Homo sapiens: one gene and its partners. The protein of the gene in region 2 purifies or fractionates together with the protein of the main gene of each other region. This does not show direct contact. Each region holds a gene or a part of one and is shown on either strand. Other genes may lie near its edges. The genes, in order: TOP3A, EXO5, ENAH, ACTR3 and ECD.

What was found.
Region 1: the proteins of EXO5 (region 2) and TOP3A purify together in Homo sapiens (affinity purification with mass spectrometry, with the first as the bait; one study listed by BioGRID). This does not show direct contact.
Region 3: the proteins of EXO5 (region 2) and ENAH purify together in Homo sapiens (affinity purification with mass spectrometry, with the first as the bait; one study listed by BioGRID). This does not show direct contact.
Region 4: the proteins of EXO5 (region 2) and ACTR3 purify together in Homo sapiens (affinity purification with mass spectrometry, with the first as the bait; one study listed by BioGRID). This does not show direct contact.
Region 5: the proteins of EXO5 (region 2) and ECD purify together in Homo sapiens (affinity purification with mass spectrometry, with the first as the bait; one study listed by BioGRID). This does not show direct contact.

Annotation. Positions count from the first base shown.
Region 1 is NC_000017.11:18,302,075-18,308,497, forward strand, and holds part of TOP3A (DNA topoisomerase 3-alpha), read right to left. Parts: intron 6,351-6,423; coding exon 6,277-6,350; exon of another isoform or gene 6,239-6,276; intron 5,422-6,238; exon of another isoform or gene 5,399-5,421; intron 4,893-5,398; coding exon 4,817-4,892; intron 3,147-4,816; coding exon 3,038-3,146; intron 650-3,037; coding exon 506-649; intron 361-505; coding exon 190-360; intron 1-189. UniProt on the Homo sapiens protein: Releases the supercoiling and torsional tension of DNA introduced during the DNA replication and transcription by transiently cleaving and rejoining one strand of the DNA duplex.
Region 2 is NC_000001.11:40,513,186-40,518,494, reverse strand, and holds the end of EXO5 (exonuclease V), read right to left. Parts: intron 3,981-5,309; 5' UTR 3,951-3,980; coding exon 2,829-3,950; 3' UTR 2,457-2,828; downstream 1-2,456. UniProt on the Homo sapiens protein: Single-stranded DNA (ssDNA) bidirectional exonuclease involved in DNA repair. Probably involved in DNA repair following ultraviolet (UV) irradiation and interstrand cross-links (ICLs) damage.
Region 3 is NC_000001.11:225,484,394-225,490,111, forward strand, and holds the end of ENAH (protein enabled homolog), read right to left. Parts: 3' UTR 2,436-5,718; downstream 1-2,435. UniProt on the Homo sapiens protein: Ena/VASP proteins are actin-associated proteins involved in a range of processes dependent on cytoskeleton remodeling and cell polarity such as axon guidance and lamellipodial and filopodial dynamics in migrating cells.
Region 4 is NC_000002.12:113,895,220-113,901,642, reverse strand, and holds part of ACTR3 (actin-related protein 3), read right to left. Parts: intron 1-6,423. UniProt on the Homo sapiens protein: ATP-binding component of the Arp2/3 complex, a multiprotein complex that mediates actin polymerization upon stimulation by nucleation-promoting factor (NPF).
Region 5 is NC_000010.11:73,148,993-73,155,415, forward strand, and holds part of ECD (protein ecdysoneless homolog), read right to left. Parts: intron 5,457-6,423; coding exon 5,264-5,456; intron 3,430-5,263; coding exon 3,301-3,429; intron 2,714-3,300; exon of another isoform or gene 727-2,713; intron 620-726; exon of another isoform or gene 1-619. UniProt on the Homo sapiens protein: Regulator of p53/TP53 stability and function. Inhibits MDM2-mediated degradation of p53/TP53 possibly by cooperating in part with TXNIP. May be involved transcriptional regulation. In vitro has intrinsic transactivation activity enhanced by EP300.

The DNA of each region.
Region 1 (6,423 bases), on a different chromosome or scaffold from region 2:
AAACGAATATCAAATAGGGAGGAGTTTCTGGATAACAAAGGGAACTTTAAGTGGATTGTAATGGGCCAGGGAGGATGACAGCAAGACTAAAATAAATCACATCTTTATTAGTGCTATTAATGCTCACAGTCCCCCTCCTTAACCTTGAGCCCATAGGTCCCAGGCCATAACACCCACTCCAGGCCCTACCTTTAATTCTGTGGAAGATTTCTGGTACAAAAGCCTGAATGGCTTTGAACCGCTCCACCACAAAGCCCAGTGTGGGGAACTGGCAGCTGCCGTAACTGATGAGCTGCTCTGCCAGCACCTCAGGAAAAATCCTCTGAAGCCGCAGGGTCTGGAACCTAGTAAAGGCAGCTCCTGGAGAGTGAAGGAGAGTGAAGGAAGGTGAAAATGATGGATAATGAGAGTCCAGGGCTGGCTGCACATATCGACACAGAGCCCATTTTTGGTCCCATAACACAACATTAATGTGGCCATGGGAGAGGTCTGCCTAGCTCCTCACCAATCCTCAGGTCCAGCTCCTGCCTCACATCCACAGCATCGCTCACCCTCTGATCAGGCTCGGTCAGGTTTTCACAAGCTGTCCTGACGGCATGGGGTGTGATCTCAGAGAATCGGGCTCGCAACACCTGCAGATTGGGCTTTACTGCAGAACACAAGGTGTTACCAAGGTCAAAGTCAAATCACACTGCCCTCCATCATAAAGGACTCACTTTTCTTAAAGCCCCTTGAAATAAAGGCAAACCAGTTCAAGAAGCTGTGAGATGACCAATTTACCTATTAGGTTAAATCAATGGTGTACAGTGTCTAAAGAGGAAACATCACCATAACCTTTAAACTGAGTGTACTGTCAGAAATAGTGATGGAGTTAATTTTAGCTAGTAACTGTGGGGAAAAGAGAGATCAGATCGTTACTGTGTCTAGTAGAAAAAGGAAGACATAAAGAAACTCCATTTTGATCTGTACTAAGAAAAATTGTTCTGCTTTGAGATGCTGTTAATAATCTGTGACTTGTCCCAACCCTGTGCTCACAAAAACATGTGCTGTATTGACTCAAGGTTTAAAGGATTTAGGCCTGTGCAGGATGTGCTTTGTTAAAAATGTGTTTGCAGGCAGTACGCTTTGTGAAAGTCATCGCCATTCTCCACTCTCTATTAACCAGAGACACAATGCACTGTGGAAGGCCGCAGGGACCCCTGCCCAAGAAAGCCTGGGTATTGTCAAGGTTTCCCCCGACTGAGACAGCCTGAGATATGGCCTCGTGGGAAGGGAAAGACTTACAGCCCCCCAGCCCGACACTCGTAAAGGGTCAGTGCTGAGGAGGATTAGTGAAAGAGTAAGGCCTCTATGCGGTTGAGATAAGAAGGCATCTGTCTCCTGCACGTCTCTGGGAATGGAATGACTCGGTGTACAACCGACCATATATTCTATTCTGAGATAGGAGAAAACCACCTTATGGCTGGAGGCGAGACATCACGGCGGCAATACTGCTCTGTTACTCTTTACTGCACTGAGATGTTTATGTAAAGGTAAACATAAATCTAGCCTACGTGCACATCCAGGCACAGCACCTTCCCTTAAACTTATTTATGACACAGTCTTTTGTTTGTTTTCCTGCTGACCCTCTCCCCACCAACACCCTATAGTCACACTGCATTCCCCTCCCTGAGATAGTAAAGATAGTGATTGATAAATACTGAGGAACTGAGACCAGCACTGGTGTAGGTCTTCACTTGCTGAGCGCCGGTCCCCTGGGCCCACTTTTCTTCCCCTTTACTTTGTGTGTGTCTTCTTTCTTTTCTCAGTCTCTCGTCTCCACCTTGTGAGAAATACCCACAGGTGTGGAGGGGCAGGCCCCCTCCAATAACTAAAATACTAAAATGCTCTTGGTGAACATTTTTTTTTTGGAGACAGTCTCACTCTGTCACCCAGGCTGGAGTGCAGTGGTGCAATCTCGGCTCACTGCAACCTCTGCTTCCTGGGTTCAAGCAATTCTCCTGCCTTGGTCTCCTGAGTAGCTGGGACTACAGGCGCCCGCCACCACACCTGGCTAATTTTTGTATTTTTAGTAGAGACAGGGTTTCACCATGTTGACCAGGCTGGTCTTGAACACCTGACCTCAGGAGATCCACCTGCCTCAGCCTCCCAAAGTGCTGGGATTACAGGCATGAGCCACCGTGCCTGGCTGCCTTTTGCAACTTTAATCTTACTTGCTCTCTCAGGCCTTTTGAGAAAAGAAAAATATTGTCAATTAAAGGGTTCTGTAGGGGAATTTCATGTCCCTTCAGCAAAGAATATAGGACATATACACACTGTCCTTGAAAGTTAATGCACTTAAATTTCCAGGAGTCATTACAGCTTTGAACACAAAACCACTAAAGGAAAGTAGCAACCCCACCCTCTGAGCCAGAGAATGGCCTGTTCATCACTCCCTCTAAGTTACCCAAAACCATTAACACTGTTAGAGCCTTTAAATCCACTGCAACAATTATTTATTAATAGTCGAGCATTGTATAATATGAGAGATTAAAAAAGAAAACAGAACATTTTATAATTATTTTTTGTACTTTACTTGTGGTATATTCATTCTTTTATACATATTCAATATGTAATTTTATTTTTCTATTTTTGCTTCCATTAACCAAATACTAAAAGAATTCAATATATAACAACAACAACAACAACAAAAAGAATATAAAGTCCCTGTTCTCAAGGAGCCGGGTATCTGCTTGTATGCTTGTACCTAACAAGAAATGAGTCCTGGGCTAAATGGTTTACACCACTCATTAACTCATCTAATCTCTGTGGCAGTCCCAGGAAACATGTCAGATTGGCCTGATGTTAGAGACAAGGAAGTTGAGGCTCCCAATGGCTCAGTGATTTGCTCCAGGACACATGGCTGGTGGGACTCACAGACTGGGAGGGAGAGTACCTGCAGAGGACCTCATCCGTGGCCCATGTGCACATATAAACAAGAACACTCTATTTATGGAGTTCCAAAGTAGAGAAAGTCAGCAGCAGCAGCAGCACTTACCAGCCTTACACACGTGGATAATCTCAAACCCGATGTTTTCGCCTTCTCTATCACAGTCAGTCCAGATCACCAGAGCCTGGCACTGGCGAGTCTCTCGTTCCAAAGTTTTCTTAAGTTCGCAGTGGAATAAGAGTGGTGAGAACAGAATTGCACAACAGTGACTTGACATCTCTAAGCTAAGGGGATCTGACTGAAGGTTAATGCTGCTCTTGGAGTGTGACAACTTGGCAAGGGAAAGAGAACAGAGAAAACTGCTCTCATTGGTGCTAATCATGATACAACCCCTTAGAACCATAAACGAGTTTCTAGAATAGAGGGTTTAATATAACTTCCCCAATATGACAAAACCTGAAATTCAGCTCTAACACACACACACGCGCGCGCGCGCGCGCGCACGCACACTTCGAGAGGTTCTGATTATGACCTAGTTAAAAAAAACGAAGCCGGCTGGGCGTGGTGGCTCACGCCTGTAATCCCAGCACTTTGGGAGGCCGAGGTGGGTGGATCACGAGGTCAGGAGATCGAGACCATCCTGGTTAACACGGTGAAACCCTGTCTCTACTAAAAATACAAAAAATTAGCCGGGCATGGTGGCAGGCACCTGTAGTCCCAGCTACTCGGGAAGCTGAGGCAGGAGAATGGCATGAACCCGGGAGGCGCAGCTTGCAGTGAGTCGAGATCGCACCACTGCAGTCCAGCCTGGGTGACAGAGCAAGACTCCATCTCAAAACAAAACAAAACAAAACAAAACAAAATGAATCCCAATTGAATTTCATCCAAAGTTTTATCAGTTCTCAATAAATTAACTGGCCAGGCTCGGTGGCTCACACCTGTAATCCCAAAACTTTAGGAGGCTGAGGCGGGTGGATCACGTGAGGTCAGGAGTTCGAGACCAGCCTGGCCAACATGGTGAAACCCCATCTCTGTTAAAAATGCACAAATTAGCCGGGTGTGGTGGCAGGCGCCTGTAATCTCAGCTACTTGAGAGGCTAAGGCAAGAGAATCGCTTGAACCTGGAGGCAGAGGTTGCAGTGAGCTGAGATTGCACCATCATACTCCAGCCTGGGGGACAAGAGCGAGACTTCGTCTCAAAAAATAAATAAATAAATAAATAAAAATTAAAAATAAATTAACTATACATGCCCTGACTGCTTGACAACTGGCAATTTACTGTCAAACAGGCATTTATACTTTGTAGCCTCTTTCATCTAACAAGGGGTGAGATGGGGGCTACGCGCTAATAATTTACAATACTTAGGATTATTTTTTGATAGGGTCTCACTTTCTCACCAGGCTGGAGTGTGGTGGTGTGATTACGGCTCACTGCAGCCTCAACCTCCTGCCTCCTGGGATCAAGTAATCCTCCTTCCTCAGCCTTACTAGTAGCTGGGACTATAGGCATACATCACCATGCCTGGTTAAATTTTTTTTTTTTTTTGAGAGATAGGGTCTCACTATGTTGCCCAGGCTGGTCTCAAATTCCTGGAGTTCATGTGATCCTGCCTTGGCCCCACAAATTGCTGGGATTACAGGCATAAACCACCATGTCCAGCCTTTATTCCTAGGATTTAAACAACTACCATTCATAAAAAAAGTTTACTTCAGTCCCTTGGCCACTTAGCCACATTTATACAATGGGTGGGAACCAGCTTTTTAAATCATGGTAGTGACTTTGGTGGAAAACCTTATCTCCAAATGCCAATGCATTAAAAACAAAGAAATCACTCTGTTTGACTCTGTGGTTTGACTCAGTGCCATATGTCTTCCAAAAGACCCTACCTTGATGTCTACAAAATTCTCTGGGCAGTACTTTTCAATTTCTGCTTCAAAGAGGACAAGAGGGTTGCAGCTCTGCCTAGAAAAGAAATGAAAACAGAGTCCCAACTCAGTACATGACAGAGAGCCCTCCAATCTAATGACAGCAAACTGTTCCAATGGGTTCATGGTGTATCCCCAAAAGAAAAGGTCCCGGTGAATTGAAAGTAAGGCTATGACCCTCTGCATGACACACTGTCCACTTCTCCAAGAGTGTGAACAGGACTGATAAGATGGCATTCTGGAGCCCTTTCACAGGTAAATGCAATCCAATGGCTGCATGAAAAAGGTCTGGCAATTTTGAGGAACACCAAAAGTGACTGTTTAAAGATTTAATAAAAATTCACAATGGATCAGATAATCCTAGGTCATCTTAGTATTATAAATTACTGCTGGGCGTGGTAGCTCACGCCTGTAATCCCAGCACGTTGGGAGGCCAAGGTGGGTGGATCACGAGGTCAGGAGATCGAGACTAGCCTGGCTAACACGGTGAAACCCCGTCTCTACTAAAAATACGAAAAATTAGCCAAGCGTGGTGGCAGGCACCTGTAGTCCCAGCTACTCGGGAGTCTGAGGCAGGAGAATCGCTTGAACCCGGGAGGTGGAGGTTACAATGAGTCAAGATTGTGCCACTGCACTCCAGCCTAGGCGACAGAATAAAACTCCGTCTCAAAAAATAAATAAAATAAATAAATAAATAAATAAATTACCAAGGCACAGTGGCTCACGCCTGTAATCCTAGCACTTTGGGAGGCAAAAGAAGGCAAACCCTGCTTTGTTTAAGACCAGCCTGGGCAACAGGGTGAAACTCCATCTCTACTAAAATAGAAAAAATTAGCTGGGTGTAGTGGCACATGGCTGTAAGGCCAGTTACTTGGGAAACTGAGGCATGAGAATCGCTTGAACCCAGGAGGCGGAGGTTGCAGTGAGACGAGATTGCGCCACTGCACTCCAGCCTGGGTAACGCAGCGAGACCCTGACTCAAAAAAAAAAAAAAAAAAAAACCGGGCATGGTGGCTCACGGTCTGTAATCCCAGCACTTCAGGAGGCTGAGGTGGGCAGACCACCTGAGGTCAGGAGTTCGAGACCAGCCTGGTCAACATGGTGAAACCCTGTCTCTACTAAAAATACAAAAACTAGCCAGGTGTGGTGGCACGTGCCTATAGTCCCAGCTACTCGGGAGGGTGAGGCAGGAGAATCACTCGAACCCAGGAGGCAGAGGTTGCTGTGAGCCGAGATCACACCACTGCACTCCAGCCTGGGAGACAGAGTCTCACTCTGAAACTTTGTCTCCAACAAAAAAAAAAAAAAAAAAAAAAAAAAAAAAAAAAAATTACCCAGTAAGATCAACATGCCTCAAAATTCCTGTGAAATTTCACAACTTACTATAATCTGAAAGTCCTTCCCTTGAGAATTGTACTGACCATTTTCGAAACTGCATCTGGAAATCATGAGCCAGTAAATGTCCAGAAACTGAAGTCATTACCATGGTAACATTCTGAATGATGACAAAATTCAAAATTCAGTTAGTCTTTTTGCAGTTATTATTCTGCCAAATCATTAAAATGAGA
Region 2 (5,309 bases):
AAATTTTTTTTTTTTTTTTGATATGGAGTCTTGCTCTGTCGCCTAGGCTGGAGTGCAGTGGTGCCATCTCGGCTCACTGCAAGCTCCACCTCCCAGGTTCACGCCATTCTCCTGCCTCAGCCTCCCGAGCAGCTGGGTCTACAGACGCCTCAACCTCGCCCGGCTAATTTTTTGTATTTTTAGTAGAGTTGGGGTTTCACCGTGTTAGCCAGGATGGTCTCAATCTCCTGACCTGGTGATCCGCCCGCCTCGGCCTCCCAAAGTGCTGGGATTACAGGCGTGAGCCACCGCGCCCGGCAAATTTTTTTTTTTTTTTTTAGACAGAGTTTTACTCTGTCGCCCAGGCTGGAGTGCAGTGGTGTGATCTCGGCTCACTGCAACCTCTGCCTTCTGGGTTCAAGCGATTCTCCTGCCTCAGCCTCCCGAGTAGCTTGGATTACAAGTGTGTACCACCATACCCAGCTAATTTTTGTGTTTTTAGTAGAGATAGGGTTTCACCATGTTGGCCAGGCTGGTCTTCAACTCCTGACCTCAGGTGATTCGCCCACCTCAGCCTCCCAAAGTGCTGCGATTACAGGTGAGCCACCACGCCCAGCCCTTTTTCCTGTTCTTAAAACTTCTAGTATAACTAAGATGATGCTATAGAACTTGAGCAAGTTCTTTTCTTGAAGACTATTAGCTTAATACCATTTATCCCATAGGTCCAGTGAATTTAGGTTCATTTAACTCTAAACTTACTAGGGCCTATAATAACATACAGTCCAGGATGTTCAACAAGAAAACTTTAATAGCATAATGATTGAGAGCATAAGCACTGCCGTCAGACATATCTAGCCTGGAGTCTACCACTTTCAAACAGTGGAACCCTGGAAACTTTTTTTTTTTTTTGCAGTTGCATGATCATAGCTCACTGTAACCTTGAATTCTTGGGTTCAAGTGATCCTCCTGCCTCAGCCTGCCAAGTAGCTAGGACTACAGGGATGCACCACCATGCCTGGCTTTTTTTTTTTTTTGAGATGGGGTCTTGCTATGTTGCCCAGGCTGGTCTTGAACTCCTGTCCTCAAGTGATCTTCCTACCTTCCCCTCCCAAAGTACTAAGATTACAGGTGTGAGCTACCACACCCAGCTGAGAAAATTATATAACCCTTCTAGGCCTCAGTTCCCTCACTGGAGATAATGGATACAGATTTAATTATAATGTGCTTAGCACAGTGCCTGGCCATAAGAGTCACTCAGTGAAGAGTCATCATAAGATTCCAGGGTCCATAAGAAGAGTATGTGAAGAAGGGCCTCCAGAGACAACCTACCTTATCTCCTACAGATGTCCAGGATTTACCAGCTCATGTATAACATGGAATCATACTAACAACATTCACCATGTTCTGTTGGCTCTTAATGTTCCAGTTAATACAGAAACTCTACCCCTGCCAATTGCCCTCCCCATGCATTGACTTCTGCAAATTCTCCAGTAGTGTCACAAGCAAGTCCTTATCTTCCAGGTGACGTCCGTATCATCCTTCCTCTAGCTGCTTTGATGATGTTTGTAGTTAAGAGCTCCACTGCCTTCTAAGATGGCTTGGGATTCCTCTCCACTACCTTTACATTTTCCTTTAAATGTTATTTTTCACCTTATAAAAAGGGTATCATGCTGTATGTAATTTTCAGGACTTTTTTCACCAAATGTTGTGCTGCTAATATTCATGCATATTGTTTTATGTCACTGTAGCTCATTTGTTTTGGCTACTGTACATTTTCCACTCTTCTGCTGATGGGCACCTGGGTAGCTTCTAGGCTTCTGCTATTGTGAAAGTGCTACAAAGTATATTCATGTTCACATTTTCTATTGCACATGTAGGTTTCTTCCAGCATATACCCAGGAGTGCTACTGCTGGATTGCAATATGTGAATGTTACATGTTACTTCATGTATTATTTTTCTTTTTTTTTTTTTTTTAAGACAGAGTCTCACTCTGTTGCCCAGGCTGGAGTGCAGTGGCATGATCTCAGCTCACTGTAACCTCTGCCTCTCAGGTTCAAGCTATTCTCCTCTCTCAGCCTCCCAAGTAGCTGGGACTACAGGCGCACGCCACCACCCCAGGCTAATTTTTGTATTTTTAGTAGAGACGGGCTTTCACCGTATTGGTCAGGTTGCTCTTGAACTCCTGAGCTCAGGTGATCCACCCATCTCAGCTTCCCAAAGTGCTGGGATTACAGGCATGTGCCACCGCACCCAGCCATGTATTATGTTTTTCGTATCTAATATTTATGACTTCCTGTTTCTACTTCATCTTCCCTTGTCTCTTTGAGAATATTTATTGTTTATGTTTTGGTCTGCTCATTCTGATTCCAAAATATGTTTATGTATATATTTAAAGGCTTGGAATAACACGTACACAACTATATATGGTGGTCATCTTTGAAGGACTGCAGTTATGAAAAAACCATCAGTTCAACTGTCCTGGACAGCATTTCATTTTATTATGTAACTGTAGAAAGCCTTGATCAAGATAAAAATAGGGATGACTTATCAGAAACTGAAGAATTTTCTTAGGAAAGCAAAGTTTACTGAAGGATACCTTCATTCCAGCCATGATGAGCATCTGTCTTCTCAGGCAATCATGATGAAGCTCCAGGGACAGTATAACCCATCTCTCCCACTCATCCCTGAGCCTTGGTCCTGGACTGAATGTGGTTAGAGGTTGTGGAAATAAAAAAAAGAACCAAAATAAGAACACTCTCCATAAAAGCCAAGCTCAGAGACTGGTCCTCTTTTGCTTAGGTACAACAGGAGCAGGAAGGATCAACATTCTTGAAAGCATACCTTCTATTCATTTGGCTTTTTTGACTTGGGGCGCCAGTGTAGAGCTGAGCACTCCACTGCCCTTTCTCCACTCACAAATGTCTGCATAGGTACACGTCCGGCACTTCCAAGCCTCCTCCACGTCAACTCCCTGGGGCTCTCGGTGGCCCATCCAGTAGGCCATATAATGCTGCACCTTGGCTCTCACCTCCTTCTCTTTGAAGGCTACAATCTCAGTACCCAGCACAGTGGCAGTCTCTTGGTGGATATACTCAATCTTCAAGATATCAATAACTGGGAGGTCTGACAGTGTTAGAGACAAGAAGACAAGTTCCATGAGGTCACCCAAAGACTTCACAGAGAAGCCTCCCTGCTGGGCATGCCTCAGCACTGATGGCCCCAGTGGCTTTTCTAGACACAACTTTGTGTGGTGGATTAGGCTAGCAGGGGTCACTTTTCCTTGTACCATGGCATCAAAGATATATTTGTATAGGCTGACTTGAAAACAGTCTTTCTTCTTCTGAGCTTCCAGAGGGAGCATAGGGCGCCTGCGTGTCTTGAGTTCCGCCAGCTCCAGTTCCCCCTTGGCTGTATAGTGCAGCTCATCAATCACTCCAACAAGAAGTACACCCTCCCCTTCCCCAAACACTGGAAACTCTCTGATGTGCCCTTCTGACTGCAGGGTAGGAATCAGCAAAAGTATGTTCAGAAACTTAATTGCCCAAGCATCTTCTTTAGTGGTGACTGGGACAGTCACAAGATCATGAAGTTCTAGTTCTCTAGCTAGGTGTATGCTGGCACCAGTGTCCAACACAGCTGCCTTCTCAGGTGCCAAGAAACCAGGAAGCTCCTTCCCATATGCTGTTTGCAGTTCACACCAGTTCTGAGTAGCCAGGTCAGTGACATATAAATATTTAAGGTGGAATCTCTCCATGGGTGATAATATATCCAATCCTCTTTTCCAGTTTTGTAAGCTTATGGGTTTGTCATCCTTCCCAAGGGATTCAGAAGATGGGCCAGGCATGTTAACTAAAGCCTTTGACTCTTGGGCATCTTCTAGGTCCAGAAACTCCAGGAACTCTGAGTCACTCAAGTCTGAGAACCCTGAGGCTTCTGCTGACACTGTCTCCTCTTCTCTTGTCTCTGCCATGGTACAGCTCTGGATTGGGCTAGAAGGGCCCTGCATAACATGTTAAAGAAATGCATTGTTCAAATAAAAACGTTCTCAAAAGCACTTTCAAATTTCAGTGAGATAAAAACAAAATTATGACAAATTATTTATTTACATTCTTTTAAAAAGCCAGTTTATTTATGACCAATTAGTAATGCCTTGAGTTATAGTCCAGGTATGTATTGCTATAGGGCTCCTTATATATATCCATATATATCTCTTGGCAGAATTTTTTTTTTTTTTTGAGACGGAGTCTCGCTCTTTCACCCAGGCTGGAGTGCAGTTGCGCGATCTCGGCTCACTGCAAGCTCTGCCTCCCGGGTTCATGCCATTCTCCTGCCTCAGCCTCCCGAGTAGCTGGGACTACAGGCGCCCGCCACCACGCCTGGCTAATTTTTTGTATTTTTAGTAGAGACGGGCTTTCACTGTGTTAGCCAGGATGGTCTCGATCTCCTGACCTCATGATCCACCCACTTTAGCCTCCCAAAGTGCTGGGATTACAGGCATGAGCCACTGCAGAATTTTTTAAGTGGAAAAATAGTTTTATTCCTGGATCTTCCACTAACATACTGTGTGTGACTTTAAGCAAATCACCTTTCTTGGCCTCAGTTTCTTCAGATTTAAAAAGAGCTTTGAGGCGGGGCGGGTGGCTCACACCTGTAATCGCAGCACTTTGGGAGGCTGAGGTGGGCAGATCACTTGAGGTCAGGAGTTCAAGACCAGCCTGGCTAACATGGTGAAACCCCATCTCTACTAAAAATACAAAAATTAGCCAGGTATGGTGGCACACACCTGTATTCCCAGCTACTCAGGAGGCTGAGGCAGCAGAATTGCTTGAACAGGGAGATGGAAGTTGCAGTGAGCCGAGACTGCACCACTGCACTCCAGCCTGGGTGACAGAGCAAGACTCTGTCTCAAGAAAAAGAAAAAAAAAAAAAAAGGAGATTTGAGGTTTGCCTTTTCTGCTTCAAAATTCTATTGACTTGAAAGAGTATTTCATTATTTTAAGTGAATATACATCTTTGTAAATGTAGGAACAATGTTTGAGAAGTTTACCATGGGCCACTTTCTACAATTTCCTTTATACAAAGTCCTTGACGAGCAAAATGAATCTCAACTACAAACTGTTCCTTGAGAAAAAGGAGCTCTGCAATAACTGTTTTTAAATGCAGTTCAAGGAACCTAGTATGGCAAAATTCAAAGATCAACTATATATAGATACAAATAAATATAGTCTAACACAAATTAATGCATGAAATAATAAGAGGATGTTACAGCGACACATGGAAATTAGTAGCTTGACTTCATAAATTATCCTCTTAATATTATAGAAATTGG
Region 3 (5,718 bases), about 180 Mb from region 2:
TACCCATAATAGCCCTAAGCTGGGAACTACGATATCACGAGGACAGACAATCCACCACTACACACACTACGGATGATCTCACATGCAATATTGGGAGAAAGGAACCAAGCACAAAATAGCAGGATTCCTTCACATCAAGCACAAACACAGCAACCTCGGGGGTCAGAAGTCAGGAGAGGGGTGATGCTGGGAGGGAGTGGCTGGAAGGAAACACGAGGGGGCTTCTGGGTCTTGACGTCTTTTCTCGCTTTGGGTGCTGTGCAAATGGGTGTAGTTTGTCAAGATAGTGAGCTGTATGCATACGTACACTTTTCTGTCCATATGTTTTACTTCAATAAAGTTTTTTTAAGGCTGAGCATGGTGGCTCATACCTGTAATCCCTGCATTTTGGGAGGCTGAGGTGGGAGGATTGAGCCCAGGAGTGAGACCAGCCCGGGCAACATGGCCAGACCCCATCTCTAAAATTAAAAAAAGTTTTTTTAAAAAAGCCAAAACGTGGTGGGCAATCCCAGCTGTGGAGGCTCCTGACAGCAGCCAGCCCTTTTGTGGGGCTTCAGTGGCCTCATCAGTGGGGCCCCATCTGTCCCAGGAGGCCTGCTCACCTCGGCTTCCCAGCTGGCTGCGACAGGACCTGTCTGTAGGGTTCCAACACTTCACCCAGCGGCAGGAGCTGTGGCAGGAAAGGCCCAACTCAACGCGACACATTTTTTGCAAACCAGCTTCCTGGCTTCTCAGACTCGTTTTTGTCTTGGGGGTCGGGAGTGATGACTTAAGAGCTATAATCATCCAAGGATAGACATCACTGTCATATCCCAGGTGACTTTTAAAAATGCTTTGAAGCATACATCTCCAATGCCTTTACCCACAGGAGTGGCCTTGCAATATTAAAATTGGTTCAACGCTGTGTTACTCCTCAGTCAGAGGCCTTTGCCATGAGAGCCTGTGGCCAAGGAGAAATGACAAATGAGTGGTTCTTTCTAGCTTGTTCACAGAGAGACGCCTTGAACTTCACCCACATAACCCCTCCATACTAGTGTCTGCAGCTGTCAGTGTGGTGACAGAGGCTATCTCGCACTCTATGATACTGTCACTGTCAGCTGGGCCACCTGGGTGGGGAGCCTCAGCCAGATACCCCCAGCATATTGAAACCATAGAAGCTGGAGCTGGAATGACCTTTGAAGACCTAAACACCTCACTTTACAGCTGAGAGGAGAGAAGGCTAAAATACAACTCCCGGACTCAGTGCCCAGGTGCCACGGTGTCCTTGCCCACACTGCCCAGGGCTAGGGTAGCAATCTCATGACAATAAGCTCCAAAAGTTACTGGGAACTGAGGGGCTTCACAAATCTTTTCAGCATATAGTCTCTTAGGGTCTGGCCTCTTTGCCATAACACAATGGGATTCAGCCTAGAATGAAAACATCCAAGAATACAGAAGGCTGGGTCAGCTCATGACTGCAGTGGCAAAATGCATTCCCCTACAGCCCCTTTCCGCTGTACACCAAGGGCTTCTCAGTTGAAAAGGAGAGGAGAGGTAACAGACATTCAGTCTATTTAGAAATGAGGCTGGCAAAAAAGGAGGTGACAAGTTACTCTGGTTCAGTTGATGAACCTTCTTTTCACCTGAGCCTTCTTTTCACCTCCCTGACATCAGAGAATGAAAACAAAGACATCATACAGAAAAGTGTGGCCATTAAAAGGATCACACCCTTTACACTAATGTGCCAGCAAGCTCCTCACAAACCACAGACTCCCAGATATTCTTAGCTGAAAGGCACCTGCCTCTAGGGACCTCCAGTGAGGGGCAGGATGGTCACAAAGTGAGAACACCAAGTCCTTTTTTTTTTTTTTTTTTTTTTTTGTAGAGACGGGATTTCGTCATGTCACCCAGGCTGGTCTTGAACTCCTGGACTCAAGCAATCCGCCCACCCCTCCCAAAATGCTGGGATTACAGACATGAGCCACCATGCCCGGCCTGAGAACACTAAGTCTTATGTCTGTCTTCAGCTCTTCAAAGCCCCAAAGCACTTGCACCATTGTGTAGTTTTGCAGTGGTCCCAGTACTGGTTCCTGCAGTAAGTACGCTTAATACTAAAATGCACAGGGCATTTGGTCCTGGAGGAAAATAGCACGTACATGCAGCTCGTTCATTTACCAACAGGCTGTTCACTGGCTTTGGACGCCTCCAATGAAGAGGTCACCAAGCTTTCCGTCATAGAGGAGCAGCAGCATTCAGGGAAAGGATGGCGGATCGCAAAACACTCCCCTTGGTGACAGGCTGAAATGCAGAAGGACCAGTATAGAACGCTCCTCAAGCTTTTAGAACTGAGCGTATTTTAAGGTCAGAATCACAACCAAGACAAAAGAATGCAACTCTTTTCATGTCGTATACCTTTGGTAAATTAAGAGCAACTGGTAAAATAAATACAAATCTCATTTGAATTAAGTATTTCATGTTTTTATTTCAAAAGAAAAAAGGATACCAAGAAGCAGAAGAATGAAGCAGTTAAAACCAGCAAAGCTGCAAAGTAGGAAAGAAAGCTGAGGGAGAGATTGATCCGATTTCAACGATGTGGCCACTTAATGCAAACACAGGGGTCTGATGCTGCAAACCTAAGTCACATGAGTCCAGTGACTTCAGCAGGTCCACTGATCCACCACAGTGACAGGGCCAGGCCCCTTCCTGCTGAATCCTAACTTTACACATTCTAGACACATGTCATGCACATACAGGTTACACTTTATGGTTACATGAAATTGCATGCAATTCACACAGAGAATCATTTTGAAGGCACTGTATTTTGCAGCAGGAGCTGCTACTTTCTGGCAAGTCCTTCCTAGGTTGGCTCACAAGTGGTCCTCCTTTTTATTTATTCCTATATGAAACTTTGGTCCAAAAATCAGGTGCAGTCTGATCCTACCCTCCCAGCTGTTTTAGTTTCATGTCTCACCTTCTCTTCCACGTTCCCTTCTTAAACGTAGATGTCAAGCTTAGAAGATGTTTCCTGACAATGAGATCCTGTTTAATTCAGATTTTCAAACAACTTGAGTCAAGCAAGCAGGAGCTTATAGTATGTTGATTTAAAACAAGTTGTTACCAGTTTCCCTTACCCTTGAATTCGGCAAGGCCCATTAATTCACAAATTCCATGATAAGATACATGAGGTTCTGTATGCATAGTAAATGATTTCTAGTTACAATTAAAATACAGCCTTGTATATGTTTAAGTCAACCTTAACTTTTAAAACATGACTTCAGTATACGCAACCTTAGGCTCACTTCCAGATTATAAAGTCCCATTCATGGGGTGCAAATGTTTACATTGTTAGCAAAGAAAATAGCTCTGCATAATCTTTTGACATACATGCACACTTCTAGTTCTAAAATTCAGAGCAAAGCAAGATGACAAGAGATTCCAATTCCAGCATATATTATGAAAGGTTATGGACTGTGACTATCCATCCTTTTGGACCATAAGAAATTCACTTTTAAATTTTTTCTACTGTGCTGTTCTACTATATACTTTTGGTCTATCAACTTGGTAGGCCTGAAAAAAAAAAGTATTTAACCTTCTAAATCTCATAATAGAAATTATGTACGTTGTTCTTTAACCAGAAAGGTTCACTGCTGACTCCCCCACCTCTCAAAAAACAAACAAACAAACAAACACCACCAAAGCTTTCCGCCATTCATGCACATGCTTATTCTGACCCCAACCCCATCCCTACAAAGGGGCAGCAGACAGCACAATAGTCAAGGACAAGGTTTTTATTTATTTATTTATTTATTATTTATTTATTTATTTTTTAAGGAGACAGGCCTCGCTATGTTGCCCAGGCTGGCCTCCAACTTTGGGCTCAAGTGATCCTTCTGCCTCAGCCCCCCGAGTCGCTGTGCCTAGGAGCACGCACCACCACACCTGGCTTAAGTAGAAGGTTCTGAAATCTGCCAGAGGCTGAGCAACAGAAAGCTTCCAATGAGAACTCAGAAGGCATTCACTCTGCCTGAAGTTGTGCTCTGCTCACAGCACGAGTGTGGCTGTCCCTCTCTCGCTCCCACCAGCTACATAATAGGGACTTTCAGGATGCTCCTATAAATACAGACTCCAGAGAGGTTTCCTCAAAAATTAAAAAAAAAATTCTATGCAAATATGTAAGTACTGTCATTGAGGATTACAGAAATACTTTGCATCAACTACAGATGTCTCAAAATAGAATTCTTTCTAGCTCATTCAGTTTTGTTAGAAACACTTCATGTTCTCCAAAAAAGAAAAGCACCTAACGAAAAGCATGTCCTATTCATGCTAGCAAGAAATGAATCCCAAAGGACACGCACCAAGAACCAAAGTAAAAGAATGTCAGCAAAACAGGACCCATCTTTTATCATCCCAAACTGCTATTTCCATCTCTGACTTTCTGCCAAATTATCTTTATCTTCCTAAGACGAAGCAAAGACTCAGAGCCCTCAAATGGCACGGAAGCGGCACCTGGTCTGCCAAGACATTGCTGTTAAACAGAGTCTTTTGGATTAAAACCAGGGAACTCGGAAGGAATGACTACATGGATATAGATGGATAAGATGGAAGATATAAAATAAGAAGGGCAGGAGGGTAAGATTATTCCTTTTTTCCTTTCAAGGCTGACAGTGATAGAATAAACAGCAGCACAGCAGGTTCAGATGATATGAAAACCACTGAATTCTGCCCAGGAATTGAAAGAAGGGCTTCTTCACTTCATCGAGCTCTGGAAAGTCTGTTTACTTAGAAACAGCTCTTGAACTACAAGAGTCAAATGGACCTTCTGCTATTCATATAATTGGAGCATGGATCTCGTGTGGTCCCATTACATGATTGGAATCAGTCTTTCTGAACGGCAGAATGTGCTTCCAGGTTGAAGCACAATGGAGAATGTACTGAAGCCACCACAGAGATGCTGGTAATTCAAACTGTGAAAGCACGTGGCGCAGAGGAAACTGACACAGAACAGCACACCACTGGTGCTTTATGCAACACCACTGACCCCAAGATGGTCACTCCATTGATTTTTCCGCATTGTTTACATCCAGGATGCATGCTGTCCAGTGCAATAGCGTCTATGACTATAAAACAACTAAAAGCTGCACTTAAGATGGGAGAGCCAAACTCAGATCTTTTTTCTCCTTCTCTTCAAAGATCAAAAGAAGAATAAACCAAAAAAGATTAAAAAAAAAGAATAAACCAACCAGTAGCTGCCGAGAATACAGTGAAAGAGGAAATTCAGAACTCAACTTTATCGGGGATGGGCACGGTCGCTTATGCCTGTAATCCCAACACTTTGGGAGGCCAAGGTGGGTGGATCACCTGAGGTCAGGAGTTCGAGACCAGCCTGGCCAATACGGTGAAACCCTGTCTCTACTAAAAATACAAAAATTAGCCGGGTGTGGTGGCGCATGCCTGTAGTCCCAGCTACTAAGGAGGCTGAGGTAGGAGAATCGCTTGAACCCGGGAGGCAGAGGTTGCAGTGAGCTGAAATCACACCACTGCACTCCAGCCTGGATGACAGAGCGAGACTGTCTCGAAATAATAATAATAACAATAATAATAAAAAGCTTTATCTATCCTTGCTTGTATAGTGGCAAGGAAAAAATAAAAACAAAACAAAAAGAATTTAAAAAAAGAACTCAACTTTAGAGGTAGAAGGCTCAGAGAGAATGACTGACTAGCCCCACAGCCTGAAAACTG
Region 4 (6,423 bases), on a different chromosome or scaffold from region 2:
ACAACTCTTTCCAAAACCTTAACACTGACAACCACTAAAGTTCAAATAATTCTATCTTAATATGAATGACTTGCTTATACTCTTACCATATCATAAAAATAAAGTACATCTTATATAATTTTATGTAAGATATGATTACCAAATAAATCCCAAATGAAAACAGAGTTTACTAATTGATCCCAATGCCTACTCCCATAATATCTTAATTCTCAGCTTACCCAGTTTTCGTCATACAATACCAAAGCCCAAAAAGGTAATTTGGTGTTAGAAACTTTGTTGTTGCTGAAACAGAGTTTCGCTCTTATTGCCCAGGCTGAAGTGCGACAGCGCGATCTTGGCCCACCACAACCTCTGCCTCCCAGGTTCAAGCGATTCTCCTGACTCAGCCTCCCGAGTAGCTGGATTCAAGCAATTCTCCTGCCTCAGCCTCCCAAGTAGCTGGGATTACAGGCACACGCCACCACGCCCAGCTAATTTTGTGTTTTTAGTAGAGATGGGGTTTCTCCGTGTTGGTCAGGCTGGTCTCAAACTCCCGACCTCAGGTGATCTGCGGCCTCGGCCTCCCAAAGTGCTGGGATTACAGGCATGAGCCACCGTGCCCAGCCAGAAACTTTTAAAACAAGAATGCAGTGGCTGATTCACAGGGAAATTTGTCAAGTAGAGTAAGACAATATTAGCTATAAAGATAAACAGCAATGGTTTAAAAAACTTTTCCAATTCCCTCCAACATTTTTCTCATGACATGCAAGTCAATGTTTAACCTGACACAAAAATACTGATGGACTGTTGAGTGAAGAACCTGGACGCCTACTCTGTGTGTCAACAGAAACATTCTCCTGGTCCCTTCAAGCCTAAACCTTAAAATCTTAACTCCTTTTCACTAGTGGGGAGAACATGAACCTTGAAATAAAGAAGACATGACTGAATGCTTGTTCCACCATTTACTAGCCTGTGATCCTGTGATCATAGACTATCCCTAATGCATCGGGAATAAAACTAAATTCATGAGGTTGTCATAAGGATTAAAGGACCTAACAGTGAATAAAACTCACTAAGTATTTGGTAAACATTTCCTTCCCAAGATGATTTTCCTTTATCCATAGGCCTTCCTTTATCCCTCTACCCATTCCTTTAATTTTGCTTTCAAAGATTCTCAACGTTTTCCCAGTCCCTTTGCTATACGTCCATCACCACTGAAGACAACGACTACAGCAGTCAGCACTTGCCCCATGAAAGAAATCAGTCACAAAAAGCCACAAATTGTATGATTCCATTTACATGAAATGGCCAAAATAGGCAAATCCATAAAGACAGAAAGTAAATTAGTGTTTGCTAAGGGTTGAGGGTAGAGGTAACGGAGAGTGACTGCTACTGGGTGTAGGGTTTTTTGGGGTCATGAAAATGTTCTAAAATTGATTGGATTCCAATAAGTGGCATCCAGGCATTAAAAAAAAATGAAATTGACTGGAAATAGTTGCACAACCTTGTGACTATACTAAAAACTACTCAATTACACACTTTAAAAGAGTAAACTTTACAGTATGTGAATTATAACTCAATAAAGCTGTATAAAGTAAAATACTAGACCCAGACTAATAGTGCATAAATTTACCTTTTATCACTCTTTTGCTTAATGATCTACACAATCCACTACTGTCTATCAAATAAATCGCAAACCATTCTGCCCCATTTAAAATCCTTCTGAAATAAGGCAAGATGAGTAAATAAACTACTTGCTGTCCCACAGCTCCCAACAGAAATATCTGAATTCCAGGCAGGGCAATTTCCTAACTGACCCATCCCCCAAATACTTTGAAACTCCTTCATGACTTCCCTTTATCAGTAAAATATTTGCTGGGCATTATTAAATATCATGCAGGACGCTATCACTTGAATAGAGAATGCACAAAAAAGAAATAATCCCTGCCACTATGGAGCTTTCAATTTAGCTCACATCCTAGATTTGAAGTCCTTCTTCCCATATATCTATCACATCCTATTTATGCTTTTCCAAGGATCTGATCAAGTTCAGCTTCTTCATAAATCATCCTCCAAATACTACAGCCCTTATTAATCTGCCCAAACAATTAAATGCTAGTAAGCCATCCATAATTATTTCACACATATTAGTTTCATCTTTGAAACTAAACTGTAAACCTCAAGTATAAAATCATGCCTTAGTTTTCTTGTATATACCATAGTGTTCAGCACAGAACTGAGACTGAAATAAATACTTGATTACTTTAAGTTCTTCTATTTTTTTACTTTCATATGTGTTTTGTGCAGTCATTAATGAGCACATAATACATAGTGAGTAAAATAATTACAGTAAGTAATGCATCAGTGGAGATTATTCATTTTCAAATTGCAGCTTCAGAAATATGTATGCCTTCCTTTTGAAGATATATGTAATTAGCATCATTTCCTTGAGCTGCCCTGAATTTATCAGCAATTATCAGTCCTTGCAATACTCAAATAAGCAGTAAGCAAATCCATATTTCACTTTAATGTGTTATAGGTTAATCAAATCAGTGAACTGGTCACTAAGACCTCCCTATATGTTTCATATTTGTACTAAAAATTAGTAGCTTTGGGTTTAAGTATGTATAAAATGGACACTCTTAAAAACTGGACTAATAATTTGACCACTCTCCTTGGATGTATCTCAATTAGGGAACAGTAGAGCAGTGAGCTCTGGAATGAGACTACCCCAGGACTAAAATTCTAAATCTACTACTTATCTTTGAAATGGGATTATTTATAACAGTAACTACCTCACAGGGCTTCTGAAAAGGTAATAACATCCAAAACAAAACGTGCAAAGGGCCTTGAAATGGCTGATTGGTACACATCCCATTTAATACATCTTTAATAATTAAAATCCAAAGATATAAATCTCTGAAACCATAAAGAAAAATTTTTTTAAAGAGAGCATTCATTTTATGAAAGTCATCTGTCCTGGCACCTACAGAGCACAACTTTTAAAATATCTCTAAACTTGGTTTAAAACATTATTATTGGGAAACATAAAATTAGTTTCTCATGTGTGCCATACAGTATGCCTCTGCATTACAACGAAACACTGAAGAATTCTGATGTAGGCTTCAACTAAAACTACTTTAACTATAAATAAAATACATTATGTTATTCCAATTACTTAATTTCAACTATTAACTCATAAATGTGAACTCACAAGAAAATTTAAGAGAACTCAACAATACTATCAATTAATAATTAGGAACACTCCCAAAAGACATTTCTCAACTCTGAGCCTCTGTTTCATTTGTAAATGAAGACTGGATTAAATTATCTCTCAAAATCCCTTTTCAGCTCTATAATTCTGTGTGAGTCATTAGGCATTTCCCTTAATTTACTAAAGCAAGTTTCACAAATACACATTAAATGCTATATTTGTACCCTTGAGTAACTGAATTTTAAAAATGCTTATAGCAGAAGCACACTAGATTTAACTAAAATAATCTCTATAACTAGGCAAACACTTGTGTCCTGTCATACACTAATACTAAAAACATGGTTTACATGTTTACAGTAGATTAAGCCAACCCTAAACTACAAGGTCTTCTGCACCCTAATTCTCTCTCTAGGACTTTTATCCTCCTCATTGTAACCTCTCCTTTACACTAAATACTGAAAAGCACAGAAACCCTTCCCAAGAGCATTGCATTTTCACAAATGACACAAAGTCTTAAAGCAAGGACAAAATGTTTAAAAATAAAACGTTTAGGTAATGTCCTTCGGCAGGAGGAAAACATGGCATGTTGAGTATCCGAACAGATGAATATTCTTCTCAGGTATGTATTAGGGTTGGGGAGCAGAAGGAAAGCTGAAAGAATACATCTGGCCGAGACGGGTGGATCACTTGAGTTCAGGAGTTCAATATCAGCCTGGCCAATATGGTGAAACCCGGTCTCTACTAAAAACACAAAAATTAGCCAGGCATCGTGGCGGGTGCCTATAATTCCAGCTACTCGGGAGGCTGAGGCAGAAGAATAGCTTGAACCCTGGAGACGGAGGTTTCAGCAAGCCAAGATCACGCCACTGCACTCTAGCCTGGGTGACAGAGCAACACTCTGCCTCAAAAAAAAAAAAAAAAAAAAAAAAAATAACATCTGGCCACACAAATTCAAGCTATTCCTTTCCTGGTTCCAAGGAGTATGTAAGAATGGCTTGAGTTTAAATCGACAGTTTGGAAAGAATTTTGAAAATTCTGAAACAAAATTATTATTAAAATTCTGCAAAATCGTCCTTTAAAAAAACTAGAATTTTTTTTCTTTTTTTTGCTCTGGTATTAGTCAATTATGTAGGTTACGTTGTTTCCTGATATAAAGGCCCATATAAAGTTATAAAATCAGCACACAAACTAATATTAGTCACTATCCTATTTCAAAGAACTAAATTTAAAACAATCCAATAACATCACCTTATCTCCTATCTAATAATTCATAAATGTCGTGTTTGGTAAGCTACAGCACACATTTTTGTAGTGCTATTATTACTTAATTGCTTTGCTCTTGCTTCTTTATGCTACTGTCTATCACTGATTATGGTTGTGTCATAAAAAAGGCAACAAGCTCCAACAGAATTACAAGGGAGCATTCAAATGCTTTTTTTATTATAGTGGAATTTTGTTTCAGGAAACACATGTTGCTACATTTTAACCATTCCAAACTTCTGCTCCTAGTCCAATCCTTTAGCTGTTTCCACAAGTTGGGGGAGCAGGAGCATGCTGGACAAGGGAAATTTAGCTAGAGCTAAACTCTCCTCCTGATTAAGGATTTTGCCTCTTAGAAAATTGAATGACATAGGTGGAGATAAGATTGTCAGCATAGCGATCAATTACCACGAGCCAATCAGTCACTGTGATGCTCAAGAAGCTAGATCACATATCCACAATTTTTTTAAAGAAGGGAAACTGATATTCAATCTTTCCGTTCTTTTCTCTCTGAATGCTCTCATCTTATTAGCTTCAGTTAACAAATTATGATTCCCAAATATCCACCTTCATTCCCAAAGGTCCTGTATTTTTAATTTCCTCTAGAATGTTTCCAATTATAAATCATCATTCCAAATTCAACAACAAATTCCAATTTTACTCAGTTTCTTAAAACTAACTCCCTTATTGTCCCAATCACTCAGGCTTACAATCTTGAACTATTCATTGATGCCTATTTACAATCCACTGGAATCAACTGCCAAGTCCTAGCTATACCTCCTTCAATCTCTCAAATCAGCAAAAACATTTTGACTGTGCAGAGAACTGTGTGTGGTAGGCAGGCCAAGGCCTGCAGGAGATAAGAAAATAAGCATAACACACTGTATTCCTTTCTTTAAGAACTGAAACTCAAAAAAAAAAGAAAGCCAACCAATTATTATATTTAAAATATATTGTGCCCTTACTGTGTGCCAGGCACTGTGCTGAACCATTTTCACACATTATCAAAAAACAGAACAAAACAAAACAAAACTGGGCATGGTGGCTCACTCCTGTAATCTCAACACTTTAAGAGGTCAGGGCAAGAGGATTACTTGTGCTAGAAGTTTGAGACCAGCCTGAGGCAACACAGTGAGACCCCATCTCTACAAAAAATTTTTAAAAGTAGCCACACATGGTGGCATGTGCCTGTAGTCCCAGCTACTCGGGGGACTGAGGCAGGAAGACAGCTTGAACATAGGAGTTTGAGGATGCAGTGAGCCATGATCTTGCCATTGAACTCCAGTTTGGGCAACAGAGACCCAGTCTCAAAAACAAACAAAAAAAACCTATAAGGTATACACTATCATCTCCAAATTACAGATGGGAAGAAATAAGACCTGCAGAGGTTGAAGTGTATAAAGTCATATAGCTATTAAGTGATAGAGCTTGAACTCAACAACAGATAACTACAAAGCCTTTGCTACCCGTAAATAAAATAACACGAAATATAACTGCCAGAAGAAACGTAAAAAGAAAGGAAAAAACCAATCTTTTCCTAACTTATCTCTTCTGCTCCAACTCCACCGCCAATACCAGGTTTCAGAATTTCTGCAAAGTTAGCCCTTGAATGGGCTGCTGAAGAATCATCTAGGAAGCCTATGTAAATGAATATTCATAGTCCAACCCTTGAGATTCTGAGTCACTGGGTATGGGGTGTTTCTGATGCACAGTTTTTTTAAAAACCATACTCCTAATTCTTGTTCATTCATTCATACAACAAAGATTTGAATTCCTACTATGCACCAAGCCATGTCAAACGTTCATCTTCTACGGAAGGAAGATCTAGTGTAGTGGCTCTGCCATACTTACTTGCTACAGTATCTTGGGTAAGTAGCTTAACCTCTCTTAAGACTAAATTTTCTAGCCTATAAAACAAAGATAATACTTTCCAGGTTGTTGTGAAAGTTAATGAGATAATATAAAGCATT
Region 5 (6,423 bases), on a different chromosome or scaffold from region 2:
TTTTGTTGCTCAATGGACGCATACACACTACTCTACACCTTGCTTTTTACACTTAACCATATACCTTGGAGATCACTTACATGAGCACACACAAATTCATCCATCTTACTTCATGGCTAGAGCACAATTTATCTAACTATTCCCCTACTAATGGACATTTAAGTAGTTTCCAGTCTCCTGCTACTATGAACAATGCTGTCATGACTATGCTCCATATATGTCCTTGTATATAGGTAAAATACATAAAGAATCATTTTCTAGAAGTGAAAATGCTGACTAAAAAGGTTTGTGCATTTTAAATGTTGATGAATACAGATGGTCCCCAACTTATGATGGTTTGACTTAACATTTTTTGACTTTATGATGGTGTGAAAGCAATATGCATTCAGTAGAAACCTTACTTACAATTTTTATCTTTTTGCAGGCTAGCAATATGCATACTGTCTCATGATGCTGGATACACAGTGGCAGCAAGCTGCAGTTGGCAATGTGATCACAAAGGCAATCAACCAATACTGTACTCTATAGTATACTGTATTCAATAAATTACATGACATATTCAACAGTTTATTATAAAATAGCCTTTGTGTTAGATGATTTTGCCCAACTGTATGCTAATGTAAGTATTCTGAGCCCATTTAAGGTAGGCTAGGCTAAGCTATGATGTTTGGTTGGTTAGCTGTATTAAATATATTTTTGACTTATGATATTTTCAATTTTTGACAGGTTTATCAGGAAGTTACCCCACTGTAAGTCAAGGAACATCTGTTTTGCCAAAATGTTCTCCTAAGGGATACAATCAATTTATATTCCTATCAACAATGTCTGAGAATGTTTTTCTGTATATATTCTCAACAACCCAGTATGTATTATCAAGCCGTTTGATACTTGCTAATAAATGATGAAAAACACTATTTTGAGGAAGAATCAATATCGTAAAAATGGCCATTCTGCCCAAGGTAATTTATAGATTCAATGCCATCCCCATCAAGCTACCAATGACTTTCTTCACAGAATTGGAAAAAAACTACTTTAAAGTTCATATAGAACAAAAAAAGAGCCTGCATTGCCAAGTCAATCCTAAGCCAAAAGAACAAAGCTGGAGGCATCATGCTACCTGACTTCAAACTATACTGCAAGGCTACAGTAACCAAAACAGCAAGGTACTGGTACCAAAACAGAGATATAGACTAATGGAACAGAACAGAGCCCTCAGAAATAATGCCACATATCTACAACTATCTGGTCTTTGACAAACCTGACAAAAACAAGAAATGGGGAAACGATTCCCTATTTAATAAATGGTGCTGGGAAAACTGGCTAGCCATATGTAGAAAGCTGAAACTGGATCCCTTCCTTATACCTTATACAAAAATTAATTCAAGATGGATTGAAGACTTAAATGTTAGACCTAAAACCATAAAAACCCTAGAAGAAAACCTAGGCAGTACCATTCAGGACATAGGCATGGGCAAGGACTTCATGTCTAAAACACCAAAAGCAATGGCAACAAAAGCCAAAATTGACAAATGGGATCTAATTAAACTCAAGAGCTTCTGCACAGCAAAAGAAACTACCATCAGGGTGAACAGGCAACCTACAGAATGGGAGAAAATTTTTGCAATCTACTTATCTAACAAAGGGCTAATATCCAGAATCTACAAAGAACTTAAACAAATTTACAAGAAAAAAACAAACAACCCCATCAACAAGTGGGCAAAGGACATGAACAGACACTTCTCAAAAGAAGACATTTATGCAGCCAAAAGACACATGAAAAAATGCTCATCATCACTCGCCATCAGAGAAATGCAAATCAAAACCACAATGAGATGGTAATCTCACACCAGTTAGAATGGCGATCATTAAAAAGTCAGAGAACAACAGGTGCTGGAGAGGATGTGGAGAAATAGGAACACTTTTACACTGTTGGTGGGACTGTAAACTAGTTCAACCATTGTGGAAGTCAGTGTGGCGATTCCTCAGGGATCTAGAACTAGAAATACCATTTGACCCAGCCATCCCATTACTGGGTATATGCCCAAAGGATTATAAATCATGCTGCTATAAAGACACATGCACACGTATGTTCACTGTGGCACTATTCACAATAGCAAAGACTTGGAACCAACCCAAATGTCCAACAATGATAGACTGGATTAAGAAAATGTGGCACATATACACCATGGAATACTATGCAGCCATAAAAAATGATGAGTTCATGTCCTTTGTAGGGACATGGATGAAGCTGGAAACCATCACTCTCAGCAAACTATTGCAAGGACAAAAAACCAAACACCGCATGTTCTCACTCATAGGTGGGGAATTGAACAATGAGAACACACGGACACAGGAAGGCGAACATCACACACCGGGGCCTGTTGTGGGGTGGGGGGAGGGGGGAGGGACAGCATTAGGAGATATATCTAATATAAATGACGAGTTAATGGGTGCAGCACACCAACATGGCGCGTGTATACGTATGTAACAAACCTGCACGTTGTGCACATGTACCCTAAAACTTAAAGCATAATAATAAAAAAAAAAAGAAAATCTAGACATTCCTATCAATGTCTAGATTGTAACATTTTTGAAAGCAAACAAAAAAAAAAGAAAAACACTATTTTGTAGCTTTAAAGTGCATTTCTTTTATTATGAGTTAAGATTCAATATTTTTCATATGTTTAAATTAAAGGTCACCTGTATTTCCTTTTCTGTGGACTATGTTCATAGTTCTGAACATTTTAAAATTAATTGGCTAGTATTATCATTTTCATATTGACTTAAAGGAACACTTTATGTATTAGAGAAGTCAGCTCTTTTTCATTTAGATTGCAAATATAACACTTTTTCCAGATTTGCTTTTGACTTTATTTATGGAGTTTTTCTTTCCCGTGCAGAAATGCTTAATTTTTGCATAATCAAATTCATCAGTCTTCCCTTTATAGCTTCTGGTTTCAAGTCATGCATAGAAAGGCCTTTCCTATTCAAATTATAAAAGGTTCTTGGTTTTTTTTCAAATTGTATAGTTTCAATTTTTATGTTCAAATATTTGATCCAATTGGAATTTATTTTGGTATAGGTATTAGGGAATCAACTTCAATTTTTCAGATGACTTCAGACTTGTCCCATCATCACTTACTAAGTAATCCATTTTTTTCATTCTAATTTGAAATGCCACATTTTACTGCATTCTTACATAAACAGGGTGTATTTCTGGACTTTGTATATTGTGCCACTATTCTATTAAGAGTCCATTTACATAAAGAAAGGAAACAACATTTTCTGGTTCAACATTACCAATTTCATGCCCAATTCATGGGCTCGGTACTGGGGATCAGATGGAGGAGGCAGCCTGTATCCACTCCGCCGGTCTGGCACAAACCTTTGTTGCACCAATTGTGCATATAGACATTTAGTGAATGTGACCTGGGCATCAAGACACAAAATACATGAGTCTTTTCCTGAAATTAAGATTGTGAATAACACTTCACAGTTAAATATAATGAGAAGTCCATTTATAAGCTTCATATTCATATGAAATGCAAAGAAGATTCAACCTATTCATTGCCTACTTGTTTTTAGTAACAGCTTTATTGAGATACAACTCACATACCATAAAATTTACCCTACTGCTGGCCAGGCATGGTGGTTCATGCCTGTAATCCCAACACTTTGGGAGGCCAAGGTGGGCAGATCATCTGAGGTCAGGAGTTTGAGACCAGCCTGGCCAACATGGTGAAACCCCATCTCTACTAAAAATACAAAAATAAGCCAGGCATGGTGGCGCACGCCTCTAATCCCAGCTACTCGGGAGGCTGAAGCAGGAGAATTGCTTGAACCCGGGAGGTGGAGGAAGTTGCAGTGAGCTGAGATTGCTCCACTGCACTCCGGCCTGGGCAACAGAGCAAGACACTGTTGCAAAAAAAATTTTACCCTACTGCCTACTTTTTAGTAATCGCTAGTAAAATTCTTATCATTAGTTACATTATACAGCAATTAAATGGCTGGAAGATAAAGATAATTCATTTTTTCTATTTCTGAGACAGGGTCTTGCTCTGTTGCAGAGACTGGAGTGCAGTGAGCAATCATGGCTCACTGAAGCCTCAGGGATAGGGTTTCACCATGCTGGCCAGGCTGGTCTCAAACTCCTGACCTCAGGTGATCTGCCCACCTTGGCCTCCCAAACCTCCTGGGGTCAAGCAATCCTCCTACCTCAGCCTCCGAAGTAGCGGGGATTACAGGCGCCCACCACCACACCTAGCTAATTTTTTTATTTTTTGTAGCGATGGGGTTCACCATGTTGCCCAGTCTGGTCTCAAACACGTGGGTTCAAGTGATCCACCTGCCTTGGCCACCCAAAGTGCTGGGATTACAGGTGTGAGCCACCATGCCCGGCCAAGAATAATTCTTAATTCTCTGGAAGAGATGAAATGTTTTATTGTTAAGAAGGAAATAATTAGGCTGGGTGCGGTGGCTCACACCTGTAATCCCAGCACTTTGGGAGGCTGAGGTGGGTGAATCACTTGAGGTCAGGAGTTCGAGACCAGTCTGGCCAACATGGCGAAACACCATCTAAAAATAAAAAAATCAGCTGGGCGTGTTGGGAGGTGACTGTAATCCCAGCTACTCGGGAGGCAGGAGAATCGCTTGAGCCCAGGAAGCAGAGGTTGCAGTGAGCTGAGATGGCTCCACTACACTCCAGCCTGGGTGAGAGAGTGAGACTCTGTCTCAAAAAAAAAAAAAAAAAAAAAAAAGGAAATAATTATAGAAATAGAAACATATGGTCAAAAATAGCTATAAAACATTGAGTATAAAATGGGGAGGCAGGTCTCTTGAAAATTTCCTTCACTGGGTGCAAGAAAAGAAAAAACGTGTATAGTTTGAGCATCCCAAATGTAAATATCTGAAATCTAAAATGTTCCAAAATCCAAAACTTTTTGAGTCCCAACGATATGCTCAAAGTTTTGAGATTTCAGAATTTTCAGATTTGGGATGCTCAAGTAGTAAGTTTAATGCAAATATTCCAAAATCCAAATAAATCTGAAATCTGAAATACTTCTAGTCCCAAGCATTTCAGATAAGGAATATTCAATCTATATTAACATGCTATGAAGAAACAGAATATTTCCTTTTTTTTCTAGAGAACAATTAAAATAATGTTTCATTCACTGAGCACTGAGAAATGTAAAAAGAAAAAAATAATAATGTTTCAACTCGGTTTCCAGTAAGAGAAACTAAATGACCAAGATAGAAATCTCACCGATGTCATTATTCGTGTTTCAGGCAAGAATGTCTTGAAAACACGACAAGCTCGCAGGTCAATAGGGTCTCGTAGGTAAAATGCCTGGACTGCTGCAGCCACCAATCTGGGGCGCTGCTTTAGCACTGCCACAATGCCAGCTGGAAGGAAGCAGTGTGCTCGATGAAGTGAGGCCTGAATTTTTTCTGGGTACCTGGGACAGGTAACATAATTACTTTCATTTTACAGTATATAAATACCTATAATTCTTATACCATTCACATTCTTTTTGACATCTCTTTGTTCATCAAGAGCAGTACGTAGAGAGTGACAAGAGAGATGAAAAAAGATACTGTATATACACTTAAGAATATACGAGAGAGGGAAAGAAAAAAGTAGGAAGAAATGGAAAATAAAGAAAAGGGATTATTGTAGCTCTATAAAAACAAAACAACTTTGGGAGGCTGAGGCGGGTGGATCACGAGGTCAGGAGATTGAGGCCATCCTGGCTAACACGGTAAAACCCCATCTCTACTAAAAATACAAAAAATTAGCTGGGCGTGGTGGCATACGCCTGTAGTCCCAGCTACTCGGGAGGCTGACATAGGAGAATCGCTTGAACCCGGGAGGCAGAGGTTGCAGTGAGCCGAGATCACGCCACTGCACTCCAGCCTGGGCGACAAGAGCAAAACTCCATCTCAAAAACAAAACAAAACAAAAATACCTATTATACTTTGGAATAAAGATAAAATCAGAGTTTATTCTTCTAAAAGAATGGTACAAAGTATGCTGAAGCTAAAAGAGATTTTTATTTTTTATTTATTATTATTTTTGAGACGGAGTCTCGCTCTGTCGCCAGGCTGGAGTGCAGTGGTGCAACCTCGGCTCACTGTAACCTCCACCTCCCTGCAACCTCCACCTCCCAGGTTCAAGTGATTTTCCTGCGCTCAGTCTCCCAAGCAGCTGGGACTACAGGGGCCTGCCACCACGCCCGGCTAATTTTTTGTATTTTCAGTAGAGACGGGGTTTCACCATGTTGGTCAGGATGGTCTCGATCTCTTGACCTTGTGATCCACCCGCCCTGGCCTCCCAAAGTGCTGGGATTACAGGCGTGAGCCACCGCGCCCGGCCAAAAATATTTTTAATATTGTTAATACCTGAATGGTGCTTAATATTTAATA